5 separate regions of the Homo sapiens genome follow, and regions 2, 3, 4 and 5 are each reported to be linked to region 1. The links are microRNA targets in miRTarBase. Many come from high-throughput screens and were not tested one by one. Region 1 holds a microRNA gene; each other region holds the end of a gene's coding sequence.

What was found. Region 1 holds the annotated microRNA hsa-miR-3976 (UAUAGAGAGCAGGAAGAUUAAUGU, at 2,859-2,882, shown strand). A microRNA usually pairs through its seed, bases 2 to 8, with sites in the 3' UTR of a target mRNA and lowers its output. Matches are read on the target gene's strand: a 7mer-m8 pairs with bases 2 to 8, a 7mer-A1 pairs with bases 2 to 7 and ends in A, and an 8mer does both.
Region 2: the mRNA of NKAIN1 is a reported target of hsa-miR-3976. The part of its 3' UTR that is shown has no 7-base or 8-base seed match.
Region 3: miRTarBase lists SEPTIN8 as a target of hsa-miR-3976. The part of its 3' UTR that is shown has no 7-base or 8-base seed match.
Region 4: the mRNA of ZNF675 is a reported target of hsa-miR-3976. The part of its 3' UTR that is shown has no 7-base or 8-base seed match.
Region 5: the mRNA of RBMS1 is a reported target of hsa-miR-3976. Seed matches in the 3' UTR shown: 7mer-m8 at 3,703-3,709.

Annotation. Positions count from the first base shown.
Region 1 is chr18:5,837,844-5,844,554 of GRCh38, forward strand. MIR3976 (microRNA 3976) reads left to right here and starts at 2,852; the gene lies at 2,852-2,990. The region is part of intron 4 of MIR3976HG (MIR3976 host gene); the gene reads left to right.
Region 2 is chr1:31,178,369-31,182,368 of GRCh38, reverse strand. It overlaps NKAIN1 (sodium/potassium transporting ATPase interacting 1), which reads left to right. Exons shown (of 7, transcript NM_024522.3): 6 at 428-509; 7 at 657-2,624. The coding sequence ends at 666. Among named protein-coding and RNA genes, the nearest start is that of NKAIN1, 60 kb to the left of the region's middle. RefSeq lists a silencer at 506-755.
Region 3 is chr5:132,748,729-132,752,728 of GRCh38, reverse strand. SEPTIN8 (septin 8) reads left to right here. Exons shown (of 10, transcript NM_001098811.2): 10 at 548-1,910. The coding sequence ends at 713. It overlaps CCNI2 (cyclin I family member 2), which reads right to left. Exons shown (of 6, transcript NM_001039780.4): 3 at 3,307-3,381; 4 at 1,732-1,872; 5 at 533-763. Among named protein-coding and RNA genes, the nearest start is that of CCNI2, 3.3 kb to the right of the region's middle. RefSeq lists an enhancer at 879-1,088.
Region 4 is chr19:23,648,743-23,655,453 of GRCh38, reverse strand. It overlaps ZNF675 (zinc finger protein 675), which reads left to right. Exons shown (of 4, transcript NM_138330.3): 4 at 748-2,653. The coding sequence ends at 2,228. Among named protein-coding and RNA genes, the nearest start is that of ZNF675, 35 kb to the left of the region's middle.
Region 5 is chr2:160,270,501-160,277,211 of GRCh38, reverse strand. RBMS1 (RNA binding motif single stranded interacting protein 1) reads left to right here. Exons shown (of 14, transcript NM_016836.4): 13 at 1,498-1,582; 14 at 2,448-5,061. The coding sequence ends at 1,575. It overlaps LINC02478 (long intergenic non-protein coding RNA 2478), which reads left to right and starts at 5,317. Exons shown (of 2, transcript NR_103775.1): 1 at 5,317-5,492. RefSeq lists an enhancer at 6,500-6,711.

The DNA of each region.
Region 1 (6,711 bases):
GATGCTGTGGTATTAGGATATAATCCAAAGTACGTATTTGGTCCTCATTCCCAGGTTTCTGCCCAGAGCTCCTAAAACCCTTTTAATTTCCTAAGTGATAAGAGTGATAAAGGTGAAAGGAGCATCTTTTGTTATTCATAACAATCCCCTTTCATCTACACCTGAGCTTATGTTGATGTGATAACTTTTGGAAAGCCCCTAAGGATGGGGGCTGGTTGCCAGGGGAAACAAACCACAGGATTAAAGGCTCAGAACTTGCAGCCCCACTCATCAACCTCTGGGGAGGGGAGAGGGGCTGGAGAGTGACCTAATCACCAATGGCCAATGATTTAATCAGTCATATCTATATAATAAATCATCTATTAAAAATCCCTAACGAGGAGGTTTGGAGAGCTTCTAGGTTGATGAACACGTGGAGGTGCTGGGAGGGTAACTGCACCCAGAGAGGACGTGGAAGCTTACAGCCCCATCTCCCATAGCTTGCTCTATACATTTCTTTCATCTGGCTGCTCCTAAGTTGTGTTCCTTTTTATAAAAAATCTGGAATCTAGTAAGTAAACTGTTTTCCTGAGTTCTGTGAGCCGTTACAACAAATTATCCAACCCGAGGAGGGAGTCATGGGGGCCCCCATTTATAGCTGGTCTATCAGAAGCACAGGTGACACCTGGACCTGTGACTGGTGTCTGAGTGGAGTTAGTCCTATGGGACCGATCCCTTAACCTGGGGGATCTGATACTATTTCCAGGTAGATTGTGTCAGAATTGTGTTAAATTGTAGGACACCCAGTTGGTGTCTGCCCGATAATTGAACTGAATTGTAGAAGTGTTGAAAGTGTTGTGTGAAAGTAGAAAAGGAAAAAGGTTTGTTTCTCTCTTTGATGGGGACATTTTGTTTGAAATCCCTGTGGCACCATGGCTGGTAAGGCTGTACCAGGTGTGAGTCTTTTTCACCTTTTCCCTTCATAGGAAAAGAAGGCAAAAGAGAGGAGGGGCTATTGGCCTTTGATAAGATTATCAGGTAGACTACCTGTAACCCTTATCCCCCAACTCCTAGCCGTTGGTTCCCTGGGACTGTTTTCAAACACCTATTCATAGGGACCTGGAGTCAAAATGTATCCATCTGTTCTCACTATCTCTTGAACTCTGGAATAACTACATGTAATACATTGCTAATCATTACCTTTCCAGGATAACATATTTTTGTAAGCTACTTACGGCTTTTTAAGAAGTCACCAGTGACCTACTAGTAGAAACTTGAGATTCATTCAGAGGGAGGCATTTTTCGTAAGAATAACTTTTAGTGGTCTGCTTTTGAAAAAGGCTGGCCTCTTGGAGACAACTGCCATTTTTGAACCTAGAGGCCCGTTCTGCTGCCCCCATTGCTTACATTTGCATATGCCGCAGAACTTATTTCTGGGCTCCATGAAACTGCTGCCTACACAGCCAATCTGCCACTTCTTCTGGCAGAGGCCTCTGTGCACAAGTGTGCACACCACACACATACAGGGCAGGGCTGGCCACGCTTTTCCACAAATCCAGTTTCCGAAGAAGAATAATGAGATGCTCCACGGTCCCCTCAGAAGAAGGGTTGCTAAAAAGCAACAAGACTCTAGTGAGTGAAGTCTCTGAGCTGGTGCTGATCTCGGGGAAGGCGAATGTGGATGAAAGGTGAGGGGGCTTATAAGACATGAATGGGGAAATGGAATAACTAGAGTGGAGCACAGGCAAAAGGGGGAAATCTTCTCTCTTCTTTCTCTACCTGGCCTAATGTGAGCAGACGTTATCAGAAGGGATTCTGTTAAAACAAAGTCATTTTCTGTGACATGGTTTGTACTAAATGGAACAATGCTAGTTTTGAGTTTTCAGTGTACAATTACCAAGGGGACCTTTTAATAACTTCGGCTATTCAATTGCTAGATCATATATTGCCATTCCCTAGATTGTTGCAGTAAAGGTGATGATATAACTTGCATCCCATTGCAGTACCTTTCTTCATCACTTGTTTACCAGGAGTCAGAGAGAGAGCTTTTCAAAAAATGAGCATAGACTTCCAGGCAGCAAAGCTTTCTAATCCCACCTGACGGTCCTCAAGTTATCCAGAGCAGCTTCATGGAGAAGAACAGTAATTAGGTTGATTGAATCCTTACGCCTGCATGGCTTTTCAGCTGCTCTGATGCATTCTTTTGAGTATAAATAAGTTTTCAATGAGTATTACAGAATGGGCAATACCACAGGAAAATACTGCCAGTAAGCTCTGATTTTAGATGCTGGTCCCAATGTAGCTATTTAGTTCCTTGAATTGTTAGCTCTCTAAAGCCCTGTCTCACCCTCCCTAAACCCATGAGCCTAGATGGTTGGGTGTAATGAAGAAGTCTGAGATCATAGAAAAGCTGTCTGGCTTTTCTGGAAATTAAACCCTGACCTTTGTCTCAGTAGCAGCAGGCTTTAAGTAGCACAGCCCAGTACCATGTCTTGGTTTTGGTGATTTCTTATACGACTAGGGTGTAATAAATAATTTTGAATGATGCCTTCACATTCTGAAGCCATAAGCCTGTTAAACATTAGGTCACGAACTTTTTCTGGTTTGTCTAAGACATTGTTGGCCCTAGCACTGGAAGTCCCACATCCAGGAATCCCCTCGAACTAGGGCAAACTGAAATGATTGACCCCCCCCCCCTTTCTTAAAAGGTATAATGCAGCTTTCCTAGGATTGGATCTATTTCTCTGTTTGTTTTGTCGTCTAGATTTCTTGTTATATCAGTGCCCTCCCATCAGGTATCTCCACTATATAAGCGGCACCAACCAGCACATTTAACTGAGGGAAGGGGTGGGCGTGAGGCGGGAGGATGGAATGAGGGATATAGAGAGCAGGAAGATTAATGTCATATTGGAGTTGGACTGCAGGGCTTCCTTTACACAATAAATATTGTATGAAGTGCTGATGTAACCTTTACTGCAGCATGACATGGGATTTGGCTGTTTTTATGGCTCATGATTAAAGTAAGAAACAAGTCTCTGATTAGATGATTCTTTTTCCCCCACAGACCTCTGTCCTTCATATTTCCAAGAATGCTATTTTATTTATGCAATCCATCTAACTCAGACACCAAAATATGTAGATCACAACCTAGACAACATAAAGAAGCATTCTTTTTATTCTTGGCCTCAGATTATTTATAATCTAAAATGCTAGCTTTGATGAGCATTGCAGGGAAAGAAAGAGTTGAGACTGGCAGATTTTACCTCCTTTTAAAAAGTATACTATCTGCAAGTGGTGAAACCCATTGATATTTTGTTGAGGTTGCATAAGAAAATAGATGGGTTTTTAATGATATTAGTTTGTTTTAGTTGCAGATAGCTAAATACAGTCAGCTAAAAAGCAAATTGAGCTCTAAGGAACAGAATTAAATAATTTGGTTTTCTCCTTCTGGTCTATCCTATTCAGTAATTTAATTATTTGTGAAACTTTTAAACTCAATTGACTCATTGAATTTGTTCAAGTTGGTTGGTGTATGGTGTTACACTCATTATATATTTTTTGGTCCTGGTCCAGAAATTAGCAACTCAGCTTTATTCAATCATAGAGAGCCAACTATATTTGAAATGCCTGTGCTCAGTGTTTAATGTCTTCAAGTTATATCAATTTTTAAATTCAGAACATTAATCTGCTTATTATGTGGAAGTGCAATAAAACTATCCAGTTGAAATTGAGGAGGTTTTTCTTCTTTTTGTAACCCTTTATATAAATTCATTGGATGGAAATTTTAAAATTCAACTGTGATGATGAAGGCTAAAAATTAAAATGATCCAGTATAAATAACACCAGAGGGTGAACCCTCATAAATCAGCAAGTCTGTTGTTAAAAATAGTTCCAAAATATTATTCTAGCTATTAGATGCCATCTACTGGTTGTAATTACTATATGATACAACTGGCCATGGTTTTAATGCAAACGGAGAATACCCAAGACATCTACAGTTAAAATTCAAATCGTGTTTTATGGCATTCATATTTTGTGCAAATCAATCACTGAATAAGCTAAGCTACATTTTGAAATTCAGACTGCATTTAGGAAAAAAGCTACTGTGAACCAGAATGCCTTACTTAGATTTTACTTGTATTTGTAAAGTTTGGTCTTCCAAGAATTTCTGCATGGTGGGGCCAATATGATTTCTGGTGATTCTACAACTTAGTTTTTTTTTCCAGATGTAGTACAGTATATAGGGATCTGGAGATAGTTCTTTGACATTGTACCTGAAATGCATTTTGCAAAAGCAGTCAGATGCCAGCTGTTCTTCATGTAGGATGTGGAAGTGTGACAGACACAGTGGTTCTTGTGCTGTTGATTAACACACACAGGCTCTATCTGCATTTCTGTATTTAAGAATGATGAGTACTGATGTCCATTACAAAGAAAATTAAGTATGTAAACCAATCTCATGACACTTCTTGTATTAGTATACAGAGACTGTGCTTATGCTCTAGGAAGGAATAATTAGGTACACTACGGATAAAGAAGGTAACAGTTCCCTAGATATCTTAAATTAGAGGAAAGCACACAGATAGCAAAGTCTGCTAATGAACAGGTGCTGGCAAATTGCAGCCTGTAAATCGAATCCAACTGGCTGCCTGTTTTTGTGAATAAAGTTTTATTAAAACACAGCCATGCCCATGTGTTTGCGTATTGTTTAAGGCTTCTTGCAACAGCAGAGCTGAGTCATGGAGACAGACACCATATGGCCTGCAAAACCTAATATATTTACTATCTGGCCCTTTCAGTAAGTTTGCTGACTCCTATTCTAGAAACTTAGACTCTTAATTAAGGCTATCATTTAGTGGAAATCCTAAATCAGCATCTTTGCTTCCATCAGCATCAATTTTGCAGCAGCCATGGCTTGTCCTATGAGAGATGATTCTACCACAAGAACCCAACCACAAGGACGGCTCCTCTTTGAAGTTTTTACAGTCGATCTCTGGATCAGCCAGCGAAGTCCTGCTCCCAGGATCCAGGGAGAGACCATGGGTGCCCTCTAGGGCATGGTACAAAGGGAGGATTTGTTCCAGTAGAGAATAGAATAGGCCTTTTCTTTCACCTTTTGGTTTCCAGGTGCTGAACTACATGTAGGAGTCTTGGTAGTAAAACCAAGCTTAATGGTTATTGAAATAGAACTACCAGAGAGGTGGTAGAAGCACATGTTTTGTACAAGTTGGTTAACTGCCAGCAGCTTTGAATCGTGTAACTGCTTACAAAAAATTTCACATGGTCCAGGAATAAGAGGAAACAAATGTATGAAAAACAAATTCCCAGATACTTACATTTAAAATAAAAAGCAAACTAACAATAATTTGGAAAATTTATACTTTCATATACTACTTTTATGTAGAAAAAAGATTCAGGAAACTCCTAAAGCTGATTGTTCAAATGTCATATTTATTGATATACCCAAGGCCCTTCTTTTTGTTAAAACTACCTACATTGATGATAACCATGGAAAGAATAGGATTCGCGTATTATCTTTCTAGGTACTTGTGAAGACATCGTCTCTTTTGTTCAAAAATGCTCTATGGTAAAGAGAGGGAAAACTATTTTCTATCTCTAACTTCAATGAAAAAAAACAAAGATTCAGAACAGAATGTATCAGAACTGAACTGTGGGTTTGGATAATTACTTTCTGGCTGTGATGTTGGGGTAAGTTATCTCTTGGGGTAAAAGAAAAATCTCTAAGCTTCAAATTCCATCAGCTGTTAAGTAAGATAATATCCACCCCATGGAGTTATCATAGGGATTGGGGTTGTCCCTTGCCTTGCGTCGGAGAATTTGACTGGTACACAGTTCCTTATGATGATTTCAACTTTTCCTAACTGAGAAGAGTGACTCCCTGTGCCTATACACAATGTGGTTTTACACTGAACACCTGCTTTCCTTCTGGGAGTCTGAACTGGTTACATGTTAGGCAGAGGGTGCTTATGTGACCAGCTCCCCATAAAAACCTTGGGCTTTTCTAATGAGAACCTTGACTTATCTAATGGGCATCCCTGGGCAGAATCAGCAGATGCTTGTTGCTGAAGAAAGAAGCATGCTCTTGGGTGTCCCCTCGCAGGAGGGAGAAAGCATGAGGAAGCCTGCACATTGGTTTCTCAAGACTCCACCATGGCTTTTTCTCTTACAGTCTGGCTGTATATCATTACTATGTTGCTGGAAGGAATCTTAGCCATGATTCAAACTAAATGATCCCCATGAGTTCTTCTAGAGAAACTCCAAGTATTAGGGTAGTCTTAGGGACCCACAACACACTATATGGTTTCTTTATATTTTAATGCTAACTTGGTTAGGCTAGCCCACTAGTTCCCAACCTTGGCTATAATTAGAATTACCCAGGAAATTACACACACACATTACTCCAACTGCCTGTACTCAGTCTCAGACCAATTACATCAGGATTTCTGCTGTGTAAGACCCAGCAATTGGTATTTTTTAGTTCTGACATCTCTATGTGGTTCTTTTTTAATAGTTTCTATATCTTTGTGGAAATTGTCCATCTCTACAAGGATATTGTCAACCTTTTCCACCAGATTCTTTGGCACCTTTTTTCTTTTTCATTTTATTTTGAAATCTTAGACTTATACTAAATTTCAAGAACAGCAGAGAACCTGAATACCCTTAATTTGGTATAGCCATAGTACAATTATCAGAACTAAAACATTAATGCTG
Region 2 (4,000 bases), not on the chromosome of region 1:
CGTTCCAGGCTGGGGTCCAGACGTCCAGGTGCCCAGTCCCTGGCCCCAGCACCCCCTTTCCCCAATCTCGCCCCACCCCATCAGAGGTCTTGTCCCGTTTAGAGGCTCTAGCCCCGCCCCTGAGAGCCTTCTCTCCCATAGGACTGCCCGGCCTCCCAGGCCCAAGCCTTAAGGACTGGGGCCTGACCCTCAGCTGGCCCGGCCTCGCCGCCTCCAGACCCCCAGAGGCCCATCCCTCAGGGTCCAGCCGAAGCCCCGCCCCAGGCCCTGCACGGGGTCTGACCCTCGCCCCTCCCCTCCTCATGGCTTCTCTGGCTCCGCTTCCTAGGGTGGGAGTCCTGCCCTCAGATTCTTCCCCTTCAGGACCCAGTCTCCCTCTCCTCGCCCCCGCCGCCGATCCCTAACATGCGCCGCCCCTCTTCCGCAGTTGACTTCATCGGCGGCTTTGACTCCTACGGATACCAGGCGCCCCAGAAGACGTCGCATTTACAGCTGCAGCCTCTGTACACGTGGGTCACGGCCCCCTGCTGGCTTGGGGAGGCCTGGGCGTCGGGGTTGCGAAAAGGAGGGGATGGAGGAGTGGGCAGGGCAACCGGGTCTCTCCGCCCCCATACTTTTGGGATCCACTCTCCCTAACCTGCCTTTGTTTCCCGCAGGTCGGGGTAGCCTCTGCCCCGCGCCCACCCCGGCGCCTCGCCCTGGGCTGACCGCAGCTGCCGCGAGCTCGGGCCAAGGCGCAGGCGTGTCCCCCTGGTGGCCCGCGCGCTCACTGCAGCCTGTGCCCAACCCCGCGTCTGCATCTGGAGATGCGGACTTGGACGTGGACTTGGACTTGGACTTGGATTTGAGCTTGGCTCTTCGCAGCCCGGACTTCGGAGGAGTGGGGCGGGGCGGGGGAGGGGCACCACGGGTTTTTTGTTTTTTGTTTGTTTGTTTTTAATCTCAGCCTTGGCGTGAGCTGGGGCCTTCCTCTCTTCTCCAGCCTCTCCCTTTCACTCTTCACCCAGCATCCTGCCCCCCTGTCCAAAAACAGCAGGACATCAGACCCATCCCATCCCACCACACTCACTCACCAGCTCTGGGGAAAGCTACTGTGAACTAGGAGCAGGATTCCTGGGTTCTAATCGCAGGTCCATCACTGACTGTGACGTCTAGCAAAGCCCTTGCCCTCTCTGAGCCTCGGTTTCCGCACCTCAAGTAATTAATCCCTTAGCAAATGGACTCTTTTAGACTTCTCATTTAACTCAATTCCCTGAGCTAGACTGGGATTAAAATTCTCATTTTGCAGTACATTAAAACTGAGGCCCAGAGATGTGATTTGCTTGAGGCCACACAGCTAGATTTTTGGTGGAAGTGGGCCTTGAACACAGTGTACTTTCTGCAGTTTCTGACTGTAAAACCCAGTGTCTGCTCTCTGAGTTCCATTTCCAAGCCCCCCTCCATCTTGGACCTATGTGGTCTCCACCATATTCACACACCACCACCACCACTTGCCAATGCCTCTCTTAAAGCAATATACCCATTCGTTCTCTTATTGGGAACTGGATGGATGAAGCCCCAAATTCAGCCCCACCCACAGAGAAGCCTTCCTACACTCAGCCTCTGTCCACCCTTGGCAAATCTTTCAAGCTCTCTCCTCCAGGAAAGTGGGGCCCCAACTCAGTCACTCCACCCCCTTCCAGGTCCCTGAGGCTGGTTCTACTGTATCCCCATCACCTCCACAACTCCACTCACCCCTGACGGCTCCATCCACCTCACCAGTTGGAAGGCTTGTGGTTTCAGAGAGGAGCAATGCTGGTCAGCGCTGCCCAGACTCCAGTGTTTACAGATCACCAGCATTTACAACCAATCCAATGGCCAGAAGCCTCCTCTAACAAGCCCAGAAGGAGTTCTGAAGGGGCAGATGGGGGTGTGAGTAGTCGGGGAGTCGGGATTGCCAGCACCCTCACCCTTCCTTGGGGGCAAGTAGAGGTGAGAACACTTTCCCCACCTCCCTCCACAGACACTCCTGAGGACGCTGCATCCCACGCACTGCCTGGTGCGTCCATAGAGAGAGGATCAGGTCTCAGCATTTCATCTGTGAAAGAGGCATGGCCCTGGGTTAGAAAGGAGGGCAGGAGACATGGAGGAACTGGGGGGCACCCAGATGGTGCAGATGGTTTGCACACCTGAGCCTGTCTGTGGTGACCATTCCGCTCCTCTCCCACTACCCTCCAATCTATCATTCCCTACTCTCTAAGGCCAAAATATCCTGAGCAAGGCTGGCAACCCCACCCCACCATCCCAAATGCAAGCAGCCAGGCCCAGGAGTTCCTCTGGCCCCCACAGGCATGGAGCTCCCAGCTGGTGGGTACAGCTTGAGAGGGGGGCAGCTCCCTCAGGCTAAGCTACTGCCCTTCACTGGGCCAGCCCTGCCTCCAGCCCTCACCTCTCTCACCCCAACTCTCCCCCAAGCCCCTTTCTACTCAACGGGTGTAGCCACTGGTGCTTTGAAGCCTTTTGTTTTTATAAGATGGTTTTTGCAAGGGGACCAGGTTCTCTTTTCACTGGGACCTTGCAAGGAGGGGAGTGCTCTCCTGGTTTCTGTGCAGGCGGGTTGATTAAAGATGGTGTTTTCTTCTCTATCTTCCTGTCCTGCCCATTGGGTCTATAGAACTTTCTAAGTGAGAAGTCCCTGCATGAGGGCAGGCAGGAATGATTTGATGTTGATGTTATCAAATATTCCTGGGGTGGCCAGGCACGGTGGCTCATGCCTGTAATCCCAACACTTTTGAAGGCTGAGGTGGGCAGATCACGCGAGGTCAGGAGTTTGAGACCAGCCTGGCCAACATGATGAAACCCTGTCTCTACTAAAAATACAAAAATTAGGCAGGGCCGGGAGGCTGAGGAAGGAGAATCACTTGAACTTGGGATGCAGAGGTGGAGTGAGCTCAGATGGCGCCACTCTACCCCAGCCTGGGTGATAGAGCAAGACTCCATCTCAAAACAATAAAAAAGAAACAAATCCTGGGGCACTGGCCTGTAACTCTGACTGGGTGTGTAGCTTTAGGCAACTCACTCTCCCTCTCTATACTCATCCAAAAAAAAAAAAAAAAAAAAGCAGAGGTCAAACAAAATCAGTGGGTTCCCAAATGTGGCTTCATAATCCCTTAGAGATCTTCCTACTTATTTTCCTGATAAAATGCATTTTAAGTTTATGCTTTCAAATATCCTTTGCATCTTGGCTCTTCCTGAGAATTCAGTTCCGGGTGTGGAATGAAGTGACACACAGTGCTTTAGACACGGATTCCTGCATCCAACCTTTGATATCCTGGATACTTTTCTGGGGATACAGCGCAAGAATCAGTATTTAGAATGTTTTAATTTGTGTGTCGGCAGGTATGTGGGTGAACGGGTAATATGTATATAAGGTACAGAAGTCAGAAGGTCCCAGTGGGATTATATACTCATACCTTTTTTTCATATCTTTCTAAGGATAGGCCTTTTTTAAATTATACAATTTTTGGTCAGGCATGATGGCTCATGCTTGTAATCCCAGCACTTTTGGAGGCAGAAGCAGGAGGACTGCTTGAGCCCCGGAGTTCCAGACTCACCTTGGGCAACATAGGGAGACCTCATTTCTTTAAAAAAAAGAAAAATGTAAAAATTAGCTGAGCATCGAGTGGCACATGCCTTTAGTCCCAGCTGCTCAGGAGGCTGAGTCAGGAGGATTGCTTGAGCCCAAGAAGTTGAGGTTGCAGTGAGAGCTGAGATTGTGCCACTGCACTACAGCCTGGGAAACAGAGTAAGACTGTCTCAAAAACAAACAAACAAAATTACACATTTTTTTGTTTTTCACACAAATGGCAACATATTCTACTTACTCTTTGACCCCCTGCTTTTTTTCCCCCCCCTTGAGATAGAGTCTCACTCTGTCTCCCAGGCTGAAGTGCAGTGGCGCAATCTCAGCTCACTGTAACCTCCGCCTCCTGGGTTCAAGCAATTCTCCTGCCTCTGCCTA
Region 3 (4,000 bases), not on the chromosome of region 1:
TCTCAGGGACATCCATTTCCAACCTCAGTAAAGTTGTCATTAGTCTAACTATGCATTCCATCCTAACCTATCTGTTCTGAGGGATTCTGACACACCCCTCTCCTCCTTGTGCCCCCACAATGCTTGCCTCATGGTACCCCTGTACCTGGTACCACACACTCATACAAAGGAGAGGTGAAGGAGTTTAGAATTTATGCTCCTCAGTATTAAGCTCAGGGTTGCTTCCTCCTAAGCCAGACATACCCCTGACTCCCCACAGTCCTCTTGGCTACAAGGGCTCCCATTGAGATAAAGATTCTCTCACTCTCAGAGACCACCCCCATTGGTCCAGTGAAGGGAACACATGTCCCATCTCAAGTGCATAGAGCGTGACCAAGTGTGGAAAGCCTAGCCTTTGGGCAGACTCTTTCCAGGGTTATGGCCAGAACATTTTCCAGAGGCTACAAGGGCAAAGGGTACCCCTTTGGGGTCAGAGTGTGTCAGCTAAAGGGGCAAAACACAGAGCCTGGTCTGGGGCAAAGTTGATGTCTACCTGTGCTTTCTTTAGCAGATCAGATATAGGAGCACACCAGCCGGGCATGAGCCTCTCCAGCTCTAAGGTGATGATGACCAAGGCCAGTGTGGAGCCCTTGAACTGCAGCAGCTGGTGGCCCGCCATACAGTGCTGCAGCTGCCTGGTCAGGGATGCGACGTGGAGGGAAGGATTCCTCTGAGGCAGCAGCTCCAACACATGGGGCCAGCTCAGGACCACCAGGGCATGGAACTGGAGACCATGGTTTTTAATGTTAGAACAGAAAACGCCATACTTTTCCTATATCAATGATCAAAAGTGCAAACAATTTAAATTTCCATCAGGGAACATCAAATGTTGCCCAACCCTTTTCATTCCTATCCATGGCTCCGTAAGGGGCTTGAGGCTTAATGCCCATCCTGTGGCCAAGCTGAGCTTCCACTCCGGGACCAAAAAAAAAAAAAAGTCTGCTTTGTGACATCATCGTTATGAGCGGAAAGTACCTAGATGACAATGTTTCCATTCTGAAAAATAGAAACATACTATTCAAGACCAAGGTAGCAGAAAAGTTACTTGTATCTGCTTATCATAAGACGAAACTCTGCAACTTGGCAACGGTGGCCAGTTTTCGTAATGAAACAGTCTTTAGTAATTTAATCTTCATGCTTCATAACAAACCAAAACCCCATGAGATTTCCACATTGCATAATTTTGCCTTACTAACAGAATCATATCCTTAAGGATGACCATCATTCCCCCAACTAAAACAAATACAAACTAATGTATGATATTTTTTTAAGTGCCAGATCAATATGGTCTAAAGCTTCAATAAGGATTGTGTGTAGGTGAATAAAGACAGCTAAGTGAATGTGTGTAAAGTGTAGCAAAAGCAGACAGATATTTATGTACAGTATTCATAGAATGGAAAGTTAAATATTTTTGCAGTGTGTATTTAAAAGAGAAACTCACCATAATAGTGCCGTCTAAAAATCTTTGTAAAGTTAATTTAATGTCCTTTAGAAGTGGGAGTCTGGTGGAACTGTGTTGGATTTAAGATACCTTTTCACTCTTCCGTATGTCATGAGCCTTGTGCGTCACCTCACTGTGGTGCATGTGCAAGGGCGTGTGCACGCCTGTGCTTTGCCATCCCATGTTGTAAACAGCTGTTCCAAAGGCACAAACGAGTTTAGGGTAGACTCTGTAAACACCTCCTTACTCACTATAGTCAAGAAGTCCAGCGGCGTCCCAATATAGAGGTCCCAGTGCAGTCTGTCCAGAATAGCCAGCTCCATCCTCAGCAGCTCATTCGGGGAATAGTCAGAGCCATAGTGCTTTGTGAAGTCTTTTACTTGTGGAATAAACTGTAAAAAGAAAATAAAGAGGCCAAAGCCCTACATCATGTCATAGTAGCTTTTGTTTTCTTACCCATGGGGACTGGGCATTCATGACCTTAGTGGAGTTGTCTTCCTGTGGCCTGCCACAGAAAATGCTTCTGAAAGAAATACTAAACCAGATCTTGGCTATCTGTCAAATCCTCAGGTAGTTATGTAGTGAACATCACATGGTCCCCCTCTGAAACCGGGTCTTGATCCCCCAGCTGCATGCTAGCTCATACCCAAAGGTGCTTTGGAGGCTGGGGCTGTGCCATCTCCCCTGTTCAGCTGCAAGAACTCACCCCAAGCTTTCCAGGAGCCATGGGTTCTGCCTCTCCCTATTCCTGATCCCTACCGTGGGTACTGGGCATAGAGAAAAAAACTATGCTTTTGAGCTTCCTAGTCTGTACCAGACACATTGATAAAACCTCCTATGGGTTTTTTAGCATCGCAACTGCAAACACATTTCCTTCAACCTTGATTGAAGGTGGTTCAGTTCTGGAAAAACTATGGCTTTTCCCACAGAGGGACTAATGAGGCTTGTCTATGAGTAAACATTTGAGTACCAAGTACATTAAAGGCTTGATCCTATGTTTTTAGATAAACAGAAGTATTACTATAACCTCCAGAAAAAGGGTCACTTGATTTTTAGTTGGACAAAAGCAACTTGGGCATTAATTCTATTCTAATAAACAGGAGTTTAAAACATTTTTATTGAAGGTTTGGAACTGGACACACAACTTCTTCCCTGCCTCCTCAGACCCAGAGATCAGCTAAGGGTGACCCCCGTGGCAATGGCAGTGATTTCACCATCCCCAAACTGGGAGAAGTTGGAGGGAGGTAGGAAAGCTTGGAAAGGGTATTAGGAGATGATCTCCTCCTGAACAGATGCCACAGTGAAATTCAGCCATCCAGCCATGCCTGAAATGCTCATGGGCCCCTTGTACTTTACCCCCAGCACATGGCCCTCCTGTCCCTCTCAGGGGTCCCAGAGTTCCCAAGGACCAGCTTCATTGACACAGCCAAGTCCTCAAGTCTCAAGCAGCTTTCTTAGACATAATTGCTTGGGGTGGATGTTAAGTCACATGGTTTGGGAGGCCTTTTTCCTTGCTCAACAGCAGATGCCCCTGTTTAGAGAGAGGTAGCATCTGTCATCAACCAGTGAGGCCAGATGTATCTGTCAAGAGTTCAGGTCTCTAGGTTTGGTGGGCCAGGACAGTTCAGCTGCTCTACTTGTTCATTTGTGGGGTCTCAAAGCCTGACAAGCCGATGGAAGGGATAGCAGAGATGCCGGCAAGTTGGTGACTTTTTCAAAACATCCACCATACCTAAGGGCACAGACCTATCAGGAAACTGGAGTCCTCCAATGTTACACCCCTATACCTCAAGTGCAGCCCAGTGTGGACTTCCAAGGATGCATACCTCCTCTTCTTCATTAACTTTTGCAGCGAGCCTCAAGGAAGTAATTGTGGCGCAATGCAGGTATTTCTCTTTTACCTGCAGTATGGAACAAACACATTTGAGCAGAATATGAATGCCAGAAACAAACTGAAAAGCATCTGTGTTTGTTTTCTTTTATACACTTTTTTGACATGGAGTCTCACTCTGTTGCCCAGGCTGGAGTGCAGTGGCATGATCTTGGCTCACTGCAACCTCCACCTCCTGATTTTGAGCGATTCTCCTGTCACAGCCTCCTGAGTAGCTAGGACTATAGGGGCGGGCCACCACACCTGGCTAATTTTTGTATTTTTAGTAGAGACAGGGTTTCACCATGCTGGCCAGGATGGTCTCCAACTCCTGACCTCAAGTGATCCACACCCCTTGGCCTCCCAAATTGCTGGGATTACAGGCGTGAGCCATTGCGCCCAGCCGTTTGTTTTAATAAGCTTTTTTTTCCCATTTTTAAAAGGCTCAATTTCTCCACAAGACAGAATGTTAGTGCCGTTTTTAGATCTGACCAACGAAGATGCTCCTGATTTCAGAACTGCAGATGACTGGGCAGTATTCCTTCATTTCGGGACTGACTGGAGGTGGGAAATATGGCACCTTCTCAGGGAACCCAGTCTCATCCTAGCCTCAAGCTGCCCTCGACAGGTCGAGACAAGCACATCCTACC
Region 4 (6,711 bases), not on the chromosome of region 1:
GTATCTTACCATGTGATGTGTCCAGTTAATCTGTGCATTGCACTGTGATTGTAAGCTTCCTGAGACCCTCACCAGAAGCAGATGCTGGCACATGCTTTTTGTACAGTCTGCCGAACTGTGAGCCAAATAAACCTTTTTTCTTTATAAATTATCTACTCTCAGGTATTCCTCTATATGTAAATAATTGAAGTTTGCAATTTACTTTTTTTTTTTTTTTGAGACAGAGTCTTGCTTTGTCACCCAGGCTGGAGTGTAATGGTGCGATCTTGGCCCACTGCAACCTTATCCTCCCAGGTTCAAGCAGTTCTCCTGCCTTAGTCTCCCAATTAGCTGGGACTACAGGCTCCCGCCACCATGCCTGGCTAATTTTTTTTCTATTTTTATTAGAGATGCGGGTTCACTATGTTGGCCAGGCTGGTCTTGAACTCCTGACCTCGTGATCCGCCCGCTTCAGCCTCCTAAAGTGCTGGGAGTACAGGTGTGAGTCACTGCACCTGGCTGTAATTTACTTCTGAAAACATTATGTTATATTGGGGAGTAGAAAAAGCTGTGTTGGGTAAATGTGACAGAATTTTTTTTTTTTTTCTATGTGGCTCTTTGCATTGTGCTCACCTGGGGCAACACATACACTTAATTATGGCCTGTGGTGCCATCTTGCTTATGTAGTTTGTGTAATTTTATAAGTTAGGTTTGGAAAGTATATTTATCTGAGTCTGTAAAGTAATGTGTTATTTTTATTTCTTTCAGTAATGTGTTCTCATTTTGCCCAAGAGTTTTGGCCAGAGCAGAACATAAAAGATTCTTTTGAAAAAGTGACACTGAGAAGATATGAAAAATGTGGAAATGATAATTTTCAGTTAAAAGGCTGTAAAAGTGTGGATGAATGTAAGTTGCACAAGGGAGGTTATAATGGACTTAACCAATGTTTACCAACTATGCAGAGCAAAATGTTTCAATGTGATAAATATGTGAAAGTCTTTAATAAATTTTCACATTCAGATAGACATAAGATAAAACATATGGAAAATAAACCTTTCAAATGTAAAGAATGTGGCAGATCATTTTGCATGCTTTCACACCTAACTCGACATGAAAGAAATTATACCAAGGTGAATTTCTGCAAATGTGAAGAATGTGAAAAAGCTGTTAACCAATCTTCAAAGCTTACTAAACATAAAAGAATTTATACTTGTGAGAAACTCTACAAATGTCAAGAATGTGACAGAACTTTTAACCAATTCTCAAACCTTACTGAATATAAAAAAGATTATGCTCGAGAGAAACCATACAAATGTGAAGAATGTGGCAAAGCCTTTAACCAGTCCTCACACCTTACTACACATAAGATAATTCATACAGGAGAGAAACCCTACAAATGTGAAGAATGTGGCAAAGCCTTTAACCAGTTCTCAAATCTTACTACACATAAAAAAATTCATACTGGAGAGCAACCCTACATATGTGAAGAATGTGGCAAGGCTTTTACCCAATCCTCAACCCTTACTACACATAAGAGAATTCATACTGGAGAAAAACCCTACAAATGTGAAGAATGTGGAAAAGCTTTTAACCGATCCTCAAAACTTACTGAACATAAAAACATTCATACTGGAGAGCAACCCTACAAATGTGAGGAATGCGGCAAAGCTTTTAACCGATCCTCAAATCTTACGGAACATAGGAAAATTCATACCGAAGAGAAACCCTACAAATGTAAAGAATGTGGCAAAGCTTTTAAACACTCCTCAGCCCTTACTACACATAAGAGAATTCACACTGGAGAGAAACCCTACAAATGTGAAGAATGTGGCAAAGCTTTTAACCGATCCTCAAAACTTACTGAACATAAGAAACTTCATACTGGAAAGAAACCCTACAAATGTGAAGAATGTGGCAAAGCTTTTATCCAATCCTCAAAACTTACTGAACATAAGAAAATTCATTCTGGAGAGATACCCTACAAGTGTGAAGAATGTGGCAAAGCTTTTAAACACTCCTCATCCCTTACTACACATAAAAGAATTCATACTGGGGAGAAACCCTACAAATGTGAAGAATGTGGCAAAGCTTTTAGCCGATCCTCAAAACTTACTGAACATAAGATAATTCATACTGGAGAGAAACCCTATAAATGTGAGAGATGTGACAAAGCTTTTAACCAATCTGCAAACCTTACTAAACATAAAAAAATACATACTGGAGAGAAACTACAGAACTGGAATGTGTGATAATGATTTTGACAACACCTCAAATTTTTCTAAATATAAAGGAAATCATACTGGTGAAAAATTCTAGAAATGTAAAGAATGTGTCAAAGACTTTAAATGGTTTTCACACTTCATTGTATGTAAGATAATTCATACTGGAGAAAACTACAAGTGTGAAGAATTTGGCAATACTGTTAATTAAGGCTCAAACCTTATTGCACAGGAAAGCGTTTATACTTAAGAAAAATTGTACAAATATAAAGAGTGTAAAATAGCCATTAATATCTGTTGACATCTTAATATCAGAATGTTGGTACTTAATAAAAGCATTATAAATGCAATTACTGTCTAAAGACTTTAAGAAAATATAAGCCTTTAAAGTGAAGAAGAGTATTCGTTTTGAAGACAAAGATTACAAACATAAAGAGGGTTGTAGTACATTTACTGGTATCATAAAGCTTATCATGTACATTTTGTACTAGAGAAAAACCCTGAAGCAGTTGCTCAAAGTTTTTTCAACATCAGTGAATCTGTATGGGAGAAAAACTCTGCAAATGTAATACATTTAGAAAAACACATTTTTTCAAAATCTATAGCTTTAGAAAACACCAGAGAGTTAGTACTAAAATATATTTCTGCAGGCTGGGCGCAGTGGCTCACACCTGTAATCCCAGCATATTGGGAGGCCGAGGTGGATGGATCACCTGAGGTCAGGTGTTCGAGACCAGCCTGGTCAACATAGCGAAACCCTGTCTCTACTAAAAATACAAAAATTAGCAAGGCATGGTGGTGAGTGCCTTTAATTCCAGCTACTCAGGAGGCTGAGGCAGGAGAATCGCTTGAACTGGAGGGGCAGAGGTTGCAGTGAGTCAAGATCGTGCCATTGCACTCTAGCCTGGGCAACAAGTGTGAAACTCCATCTCTCTCTCTCTCTCTCTCTCTCTCTCTCTCTCTCTCTCTCTCTCTCTCTCTCTCTCTATATATATATATATATATATATATATATATATATTTTTTTTTTTTTTTTTGTAGATGCAGTAAATATAAAACAATATTTATTCTAAAATTAAGTCTATGTAAATATCAGATAGCTCAGAAATATCTAAGGCACTGACACTTCAGACATTACAGTAAATCAGAATGCTGAGTATAAAAAATAATCCAGAACTAAAGTTGTTAGATAAATTGTGTATAACTTTAAAAGGTGTAGAAAATTTTTTGAAAAGTTATAATTACATTGAAAGTATACTTTTTTCCTTAAAAAATACAGATTATTTGCAACATGAATAATGTAATTCAACTCTCAAAATTCAAAACTCTTCTTGTTTTCTTCATTTCTATTGTATTCAACTTGTGACTAATTGTTGCATCAGAGATAGGAGAATTTTTTTTTATTAGTTGGGCATTATGATCTTTTTTATGGAAGGGTAAGGACATTAAAATGTAAGACACATAAAAATCTAAGTGGAGAGGCTCTTTTTGTTAATATAAGTGACACATGAGGTGGGTGTTCAGGGTAATATTCTGCATTATAGTGAGAAAAAAGCATTTTAAATTTTAGTTAAAATTAGTAAATTATTTTACTAATTGTACTTTTATGTAATAAAATGTACGTTCTTAAAATTTTAAGTTATGTGTGAACTTAATATTTTATTAAAATTTTATTTAACATTTATAAAACATTTAATAAAGTTAGTATGCCATTAACTTTAACCTATTTCACTTTACTCACTGGTGTAGGCAAAAGATGGTAACATACTATTTGGTAACATAATGGACAAACATTTCTAGTAATCCCTTTTGCCAGTGACTTTAAACTGCAAGGAGGTTAAAGAATGTTCTCATAGGTTAAATATTTATTTCTCATCTAAGTTTATACTTTTTAATTTTTGTGGATACATTGTATGTGTATATTTATGCCATATATAGCACATTTTGATACAGACATATAATATGTAATAATTACATCAGGAAAAATTAAGTATCCATCATCTCCAGCATTTATCCTTTGTATTATAAACCAATTCTACAGTTTTAGTTTTTTTTAATGTACAATTGTTATTGACTACAGGGCTATTTTTATGGTTATGCTAAAAATTATATAGAAGTATAAATAAAGTCCACACATTCTGAGTCCTAAATAAGCATTAAAAAAATTGTTATATGTATTTTTGAACATGTTGTTTCTCTGCCTGCAAACACATACAGACTTGTTAGTTTTGACTTAGTAAAGTTAAATATATACATACATTACTCTTAAGTTAAACCCTAGGTGTAAGAAAATTATGGAGTAAGTAAGCATGTTTGTGTGAGTATAAATTTGTTCCTATTTTCAGAAGAAAAGAGCAATATTGGAACAAAACATTTTAGTAAGGTAACTAATTTACTAGAAAACTATAAACCTCAAAAATGCGGAAAGCAAATCTATACTCTTTCTACTGAATTACTGTAAAATAGTATGGCTTATGGGTTCAAAATCTTATGCAAATTTTGTTTTTACTTGATTGGTACTCATGCCTAGCCCACATTTTTTTGTTGTTTCTTACAATTTTTTTTCTTTTATAGTTTATGAGGTTTTCATTATGTGAAGTGGTCAAAGATATAAACTATTTTTATAAAATTTAGTAGGGCACACAAAATAATTTTTAGATGTAGTTCCACAATTAGTGTATTGTTTTATTGAATTAAAACATTCTATTTTGTTCTTCTAATTGAAGAACCTTATATAAGCCTATTTAAGTTATTATTCCTTTCACTTTTTATAATTGACAGAAGTAAATTTATTTGTTGATTGAGCCAGTTCAGGTATTGGGGGAACCCGCCCCCAATATTTCAATGTAGGTTCTTTCTATTTTCCATAAGTGTCAGCCGGCTGAGAAATAGAGATAACACAGAGAAAGGAATTTTACAGCTGGGCTGCCAGGGGTGACATCACCTATCAGTAGGACCATGATGCCCGCCTGAGTCTCAGACCAGCAAGTTTTTATTAAGGGTTTCAAAAGGGGAGGGGGTGTAAGAACAGAGAGTAGGTACAAAGATCACATGCTTCAAAGAGCAAAAAGCAGAACCACTGATAAGGGTCTAACAAAGATCACGTTTCTGAGGGAACAGGGCAAAGGGCAAACGCAGAACCACTAATAAGGCTCCAACAAAGATCAAAGGGCAAAAGCAGAACCTCTGATAAGGGTCCAACAAAGATCACAGGGCAAAGGGCAAAAGCAGAACCACTGATAAGGGTGTATGTTCAGTAGTACATGTATTGTCTTGATAAACAACTGAAAACGGTTGGAGAGCAGAGAACCAGTCTGACCACAAATTTACCAGGGTTGAGTTTTCCCAACCCTAGTAAGCCTGAGGGTTCTGCAGGAGACCATGGCTTATCTCAGTCCTTATCTGAACTGTACAAGACAGACATTCCCAGAGCAGCCATTTATAGACCTCCCCCAGGAATGCATTCTTTTCCCAGAGTATTAATATTACTTGCTAGGAAAAGAATTTGGTGATATATTTCCTACTTGCACGTCCATTTATAGGCCCTCTGCAAAAAGAAAAATATGGCTCTTTGCCCGACCCCGCAGGCAGTCAGACCTTATGGTTGTCTTCCCTTGTTCCATAAAAGTCGCTATTCTGTTCTTTTTCAAGGTGCACTGATTTCATATTTTTCAAGCACACGTTTTACAATCAATCTGTACAGTTAATTATCACAGTGGTCCTGAGGTGATGTACATCCTCAGTTTATGAAGATAACAGGATTAAGAGATTAAAGACCGGCATAAGAAATTACAAAAGTATTATTTGAGAACTGATAAATGTCCATATTAAGATGAAATCTTAACAATTTATGTTCCTCTCCCACGGCTCCAGCCGGTCCCTCTGTTCAGGGTCCCTGACTTCCCATAACATTCAGGTAAGTACTAAGGAGGCTTCATAAGTCATGAGGATGTTTTAATATATAAATGTAGCAAAAAAACGTGACAGTGCTTGCCGAGTAACAGATGTTTTATAATCTGTAAATATTCCTGCTAGAGTTATTTTGTAACTTTAAGTCAGAGATGTAAAATATAAATGACAAAGAAAAAACATTGATTCTTTATGTGGATAGGATCTTTTTTTAGGCAGCAAACCTGAATCTTGCTGAATATAAAGCAAAATTCTGCTTGTTTTATTTTCCATTTATCTTCAGGTTTGTCTTACGTGTTTTCCAACTTTGCATGACATCACAGCACTTCTTTTTTTCTGTTTTATAGCTACAATTTTCTCACTTTTGTAATGCCATGTCATTTCACATGCTACTTTGTAGGTTTTGATGAGAAAGTTGGTATTTTTAATGCACTTGAAAAATTGTTTTTTGGTCAAGTGCGATGGCTCACACCTGTAATCCCAGCACGTTGGGAGGCCGAGGCGGGCAGATCATGAGGTCAGGAGTTTGAGACCAGCCTAGCCAATATGGTGAAACCCTGTCTCTACTAAAGATACAAAATAGCCAGGTGGGGTGGCATGCACC
Region 5 (6,711 bases), not on the chromosome of region 1:
AAATATTTGCATAAAGAATTGCGTTTAGCCAGATGTGGTGGGTCATGCCTGTAAGTCCAACACTTTGGAAGGCTGAGGAGGGAGGATTGCTTATGGTCAGGAGTTAGAGACCAGCCTGGGCAACATAGTGAGATCCCATCTCTACAAAAAATAAAATTGTTTGAAAATTGGCCAGACATGGTGACATGGACCTGTAGTCCCAGCTACTCAGGAGTATGAGGCAGGAAGAACCCTTGAGCCCTGGAGTTTGCAACTACAGTGAGCTATGATCATGACAAATTAGGGTAACAACATCCAGGCCACACCTCTTAAGACTCCCAGAAATATTTTCTAAGCCTATAGTGCCTTTCATACCCCTCGGACGTTCTGTCTTGTCTCTCATAAAATGATACTACAGACATAATAAGATAAATCTGGAGTTTGCAGTCCCAGTACTAAAGATCGTATCAATGATAATTAATAATGACGAAAAGAAATCAGTTGTAGTTAAGATACTTAGTGGAAAAGAGAAAGCTGTTTTGAAACTGCTACAGGGATGAAGAAGAAGCTATAGCTGTTTTTACAGAGGCTGTTAGTATGGCTAGATAACTGTTCTTGTTATGGAAGATACTGATATGAAAGAAAGAAGTCTAGCATTTGAATTATGGTTAGAGAGAAAACGTGGCATTTTCCTGCAAAGTATCCTTAAAATTTCAAGGAAATGTATCAATCCAGTTGATCTTGCCCACTAGGCAGATCCCAAAGGTTCCAATTCCAGGAAAGGATCATAGGACTCTGGCCTGTTGGTGGAGGTGGTGGTGGTGGTGGTGATAGTAGTAGCAGTAGTAGTAGTAGTAGGTGTTGGTGGTGGTGGTGGTGGTGGTGGTGGTGGTAGTAGTATTTTACTTCTGTTTGTGCAATTACTGACAACCACAGTTACCAGAGCCTACAATTCCTTACCTGCAATCTGAAACCCAAAAAGAAATCTGAAAATAAAAATTATCTTTGTAACTACTTTAGCATAAAACCTGACCTATGGCAAAACTCAACCTGAATTGAGATGAGACAAAATCTTGATCCCACTTAACTGTGCTGCTTCATGGCTTCCAGTGTAGAACTATTAATATGTTTGCTTATGAGGTGCAGCCCTAGACCCTACTGGAGGCATTAAATGATATACAGCATATGCATACCACATTTCAGATTATAAAATCTGAAAATACTGAATTCCAAATCACATCTGTCCCCAGGGGATAAGAGGGTAAGAGATTTGTTTGATATGCTGTAGCTTGATAAGAATAGGAAAGTCATAAACATTTGGATGGGAGGTGCTTTGGGTCTGTTAGACATGCCAGCTGCTTAGGGAAATGATTAACCTTGAAAGCTCTACATGACGTGAAGAAATTTACTTTAAAGAGTAACTGTTTTTAAGGCACTGTTGGATTCAGTCAGGCCTAAGTAGCAGAGCTGAGGTTTTTTCACTAACATGTCTCATCCATTCTGCTTTGTTTGTTGTAGGAGGCAAGTGGTCAACAGCAGGTGGCTGTCGAGACGTCTAATGACCATTCTCCATATACCTTTCAACCTAATAAGTAACTGTGAGGTATGAGGGAAAGGTCTTCATAACTGGGGGGCTCAAATCAAGCACAATCTATAGGGCTTTTTTTAAAATCAGAATGGTGATTGGGATAACTCGGATTTTATCATACTGCTTTAATCGTGGCCAAGGCATCTAGTCTTGTTGAAATATTAAAATCAGTGATTTTATGAATTTAAGATTAATCATTTTGTCTAAAGAGAATGCTTTATACTGAAGCCAAATGTATACTCTCCCCACTAAAAAGAAAAAAATAAAAATCTGTAACATCAGAGAACACCAAGAACCAAAATTGTTCTATAATACAAGTATCCTATATCATATTACTTTAATACTCAGAAACTGGAGGACCTATAGCATAAGATGTTGCTCAATCTAGCATTACAAGTTTAGCAACATCTTGATTATGAATTTAGATAAATGTCAATATCCTTAGATTGAAAGATTATATTCCCAACTCTCACTTGAACCACAAATTTCAAAACTTTTCACTTTACCATGCAGACTGTAATAAAATAGCTGTGTAGAACTTAGAATACCCTGGTTTCTGCATTGCCCTGGTGATATAGAATACCTTGGTTTCTGGATTGCCCTGGTGATAACATGTATTTTTGATTTCATAAAGTCACTCTTTAGAGACCCAAATGAATTTGGCTCTAAATTAGAAAAGAAAGTATTTTGCAAGTCCTGGATGTGACAGGCATTGAAAGTAACCATCAGTTCCAGAGTCTGCATTTATCAGTCTACCATCAGTGATGAGCATAACCTTTTTCAAACACATATCTCTTTAAAACAAGAAACAGATTACAAAGCTCTGTAGTGTTTCACACCAAATCTACAAAAGCATTTGTCTTTTATTTTTCTCTTCCAGATGTACAGAAAGGTGTTCTTACATGAAGAAGGGTGTGAAGGCTGAACAATCATGGATTTTTCTGATCAATTGTGCTTTAGGAAATTATTGACAGTTTTGCACAGGTTCTTGAAAACGTTATTTATAATGAAATCAACTAAAACTATTTTTGCTATAAGTTCTATAAGGTGCATAAAACCCTTAAATTCATCTAGTAGCTGTTCCCCCGAACAGGTTTATTTTAGTAAAAAAAAAAAAACAAAAAACAAAAACAAAAGATTTTTATCAAATGTTATGATGCAAAAAAAGAAAAAGAAAAAAAAAAAGAAAAGAAAACTTCAATTTTCTGGGTATGCACAAAGACCATGAAGACTTATCCAAGTGCATGACCGGATTTTTGTGGTTTTGTTCATTTTGTGTTTAATTTGTGTTTTTTTTTTCCAGCTGTATGAAATGGGCTTTCTGAAGTTTAAATAGTCCGACTTCACCCATGGTGTTCTGTGCTTGCAGTGCGAGTGTTGCTGTAATTCAGTGTTGCCGTCAGTGTCTCTTTTCTTAGCTTTCTGTCTTTCTTTCAACGTAGTGTGAAGTGTCTTATCCTTTTCTATGAATTCCAATTTGCCTTAACTCTTTTGATGCTGTAGCTGTTTCAGTAAAAGTTAGTTCAAACTAATGATGTAGAATGCTTTGACCAAATGAGCTGGTCTATTATGCCTTGTAAAACAGCAGCATAGGGCTTTTAAAAGGTAGTCAATAAAAGTTGCTGAAATTTTGGCTTTTTTAAATATGTAGTAGGTGTTTTTAATGATTTTTCACATAATGTGTAAGGTAGTGAAATGCAAGAAGGGAAAAATGTTTTGTGTGAAACACATTTTCTGACTGGGGAACTTTTATTAGGGTAAATTGTTTGTAAGGCTGTACGCCAACAGTTTCCTCTGATAGTTTGACTGATTTAGGATATCTGCTGTATGATGCAATGTAAAGTCTTTTTTGCCTTTTTTCAGGAAAAAAAAAAAGCTAACTTGATGTACTAGATTTAGTGTAGGTAGTGTTGGGGTTGGGGATGGGGGTGGGGGAGGGGAGTCACTGAATGTTTTGTCCTTCCTTTATACTAATGATAGTGCTTTAGAATGAGAATTATGCCTGAAATCTGGCAAACCGAAAAATGTTGCTATTGCAACAAAGTGGCAAAAGCTAAAAGTAAGGATTTATCTTCAAACATAAGCTGAGATAACGAATAGAAGCAAAACGATTGGCTACTAGCTCTCTCTCTCTCTCTCTATTAGGTAAATTTGAAAAATAAAAATGACTTGGCACTTTTAAAGGTAACTTCACCAAAGACCGAAGAGCCAGTAACCAGTAGCTCCAACTTGTCTCAGCATCACATCTTCTGTGCTCTTTATTTTTGCCGGACCAGTTTGCGGTTAGGAGAATGTGCCTTTTTTGTACCTTTGCATTTAGGTTTTATAATTTTAATTGATGTATGGACACACACAAACAAAAAAGCATGAAGGAAGATTTGGATCCAAGCAGTGCCACACTTTACATCATCACTACAAGTGTTCAAGTGTAAAGAAAACCAATTTTGAAACTATGAAATTCCTGATTCATAAATACACAGTTATTTCTACTTTAGTACATATAAGATAATTCACTGTTATTAAAGCTCTTTTATTAAGGCAATTGCATATGTTTTAAAAGCAATGGTAAATTAAGTTGTCTTCCAAAACTGTGTACTTGTCTGGTCAGCTGTGTATGATCAGTTATCTACCTCAGAGTCTATTTTCTTTTGTGCTGGGACAGGTTGCTGGCCCTCCCTGTTTCCACAGACCAAATCCTCCTAGCTCAGGAGCTAGGGCTAAGCAGTTATTTCTTTCAAGTATTTTTTAGTTCTTAAATTTTATGCTTGTATTTGATGATAGATGTCAGTGACATTTCATAGTTTCAAAAGTCCTTGCTGCTCTGAGAAGTGTAGATTCTAGTGAAAATTACATAGTCATAAGAGAAATGTGTTTTTGTTTTTGTTTTTGTTTCATTTTTTTAAAGTTGTGGTATTATTGGTTCTATGCTCCCTGGAATATTACTGCTTTGTGAAAGTCCAGACTGAACGCAGCACCCTCTGTGTACCTAGTACAGTTATAAACCTGGGTCTCTCACTACTTGATATTTTTGCATTAGTTAAGACAGAAATTTGATAGCTCGGTTAGAGGGGAGGGGAAATCTGCTGCTAGAAATGTCTGAACTAAGTGCCATACTCGTCTGGGTAAGATTTGGGAAACATAACCTCTGTACATAAAAAAAAAAAAATCAGTTAAACATCACATAGTAGACAGCCATTAAATTATAAAAAAATTAATTTATGAAGAAAGACCTTTTGTACAGATTGAAAAAAAAAGATTTTCATAGAGATATCTATATGATCAAGAGAGTTAATTTTTTATTTTTGTTTTACTAGTGCCACAGACTTGCCAGTGGTAACTTATTTGTCCGGTTCAAGATAACTCTGTAGTTTTCTTTCCTAGGACTTGTTGTTAAACGCCAAAAGACATTTTTGAACTGTACATTTGATCAGATTGTTAGCTTTTCTGTTTTATTTCTTTTGAGAACCTTTGAATAAAAAACATCTGAAATTTTATTTTTCCTGTCAATTTTTTTTAAGTCGATTAAGTGTATATCAGAATTTCATTTCATTTCTGATCTCTTTCTTCAGCTCAGTAGATTGGTTTGAAAGTGAGTTGAAAGTTATGTCAGATTCAATATATCCTCAAAATACATTTCCTTGAAAACAATTGGAAAAACCTTTCCACCCCACTTTTGCTGGTTATTTAAATCTGTGTAATGACCAGAGACGTCAACCCTCAGCTCAGCACGTCAACCGTCAGCTCAGCACGTCAACGGTCGGCTCAGCAAATATCCAGCCCAAAATACACCACTAGTGGTCTGTTCTTAAAGACCAAAAAACCAGGCCCTTTTTCTTCCTCCTTTCTTGCTGCTACGCCTCAACTATTTCATTGCTTGTCAATGCTCAGCAAGGAAGACAGCCTAACAGCAGCCCTCCCACCTGTGGTAAGGAAGCATGTGGGCGAGAACCTCGGGATAATCTTATCTATGCGTTTATGACCAAGGTCCTCTTTCAGAGCTACCTGTTCAGCTGTTCCCGACTGGAGGCTCCCGTGCAGCATTCACGGAGGAGCGAGAACTCCTCTTTCCCTCACTTGACTGCTTTATAGGAGGCACTTAATATGCAAAATAGGCTCCTTCTGCCCAAAGTGGAGTAAACGTTTTAGTGTGGTGGTTCAGTATTTATTTCCTGGTGTCCAGTGGCTCTGTCATGGTGATAAAAAGAGTGGGCAAGGAAAAGATGCAGTCCGCTCCATTTCTGGCTGCGTCCCCTGCCATGTGGATGGTGTGCGGGGTGAGTTAGATAAGGGAGGGGTCAGAGCACTTAACTTGCCGGAGCCAAGAAATCGCTGGTACTTGATGGCTGTTTCAGAGAAGGAAACAACATTCCTCTGATGCTAACTGGTGCTTCTGAGAGCAAAATGTCAGGGAGGAGAGAAGCATGGCCTCTCGAGACAAACCCAGGCTGCTAAGAATGTAAGCTCTGGTCTCACTTTGCGTTCCAGCCAAACACCTAAGTGCTCCTTTCTATGACCAAAGGTAAGAAAGAAATGCAATTCAGGCTCCTGGGCACCTTCGTTTTTGTTCACCCTATTTTTGTTGTAGCTTCTCGCCGCTGAAGTCCGCGGCCCTCTATCTGGCTGTGTTATGTACTGAAACCGGTAAACATACTCAGGAGCACCAATCCACGGAAAAGGGAGGATCAAGCCAGCGATGGTGGTTCACAGTTACCGCTCCCATATAACTAGAGGGGTTGTGGCATGTTTGGGGATAAACCCCACCTAGCTGAAAGCTCTGAGACTGAAGTGGAATTCTGGGGTTGGAGGAGAGGAAAGAGGGTGTGGCCGTTGCTCTGTGGTCTACGTATTTTCCCCTCTATAGTGGCTGGAATGAGGAAAGCCAGGGAGTGGAGGCGGGAGTCCCGTTTTTCACCCCACTGCCACACCCTTCATGGCCAGTGGCTCTAGGTTTATCCGCTGGAGCTTAAATCCCACAAATACTGATTTAAAATTCACTAGGAGAAAGGCAGTGCCTCCCAGCCTGAGCCGGGGCTCAATGAATGTTAAGATATGACTGATTATATCCTCATTCCATTAGGGTAGCCAAAAAGGAAAAGAGCCAGCGCCATTGGGACAAAGGTCACCGACCTCTCAATCGCCCTGCC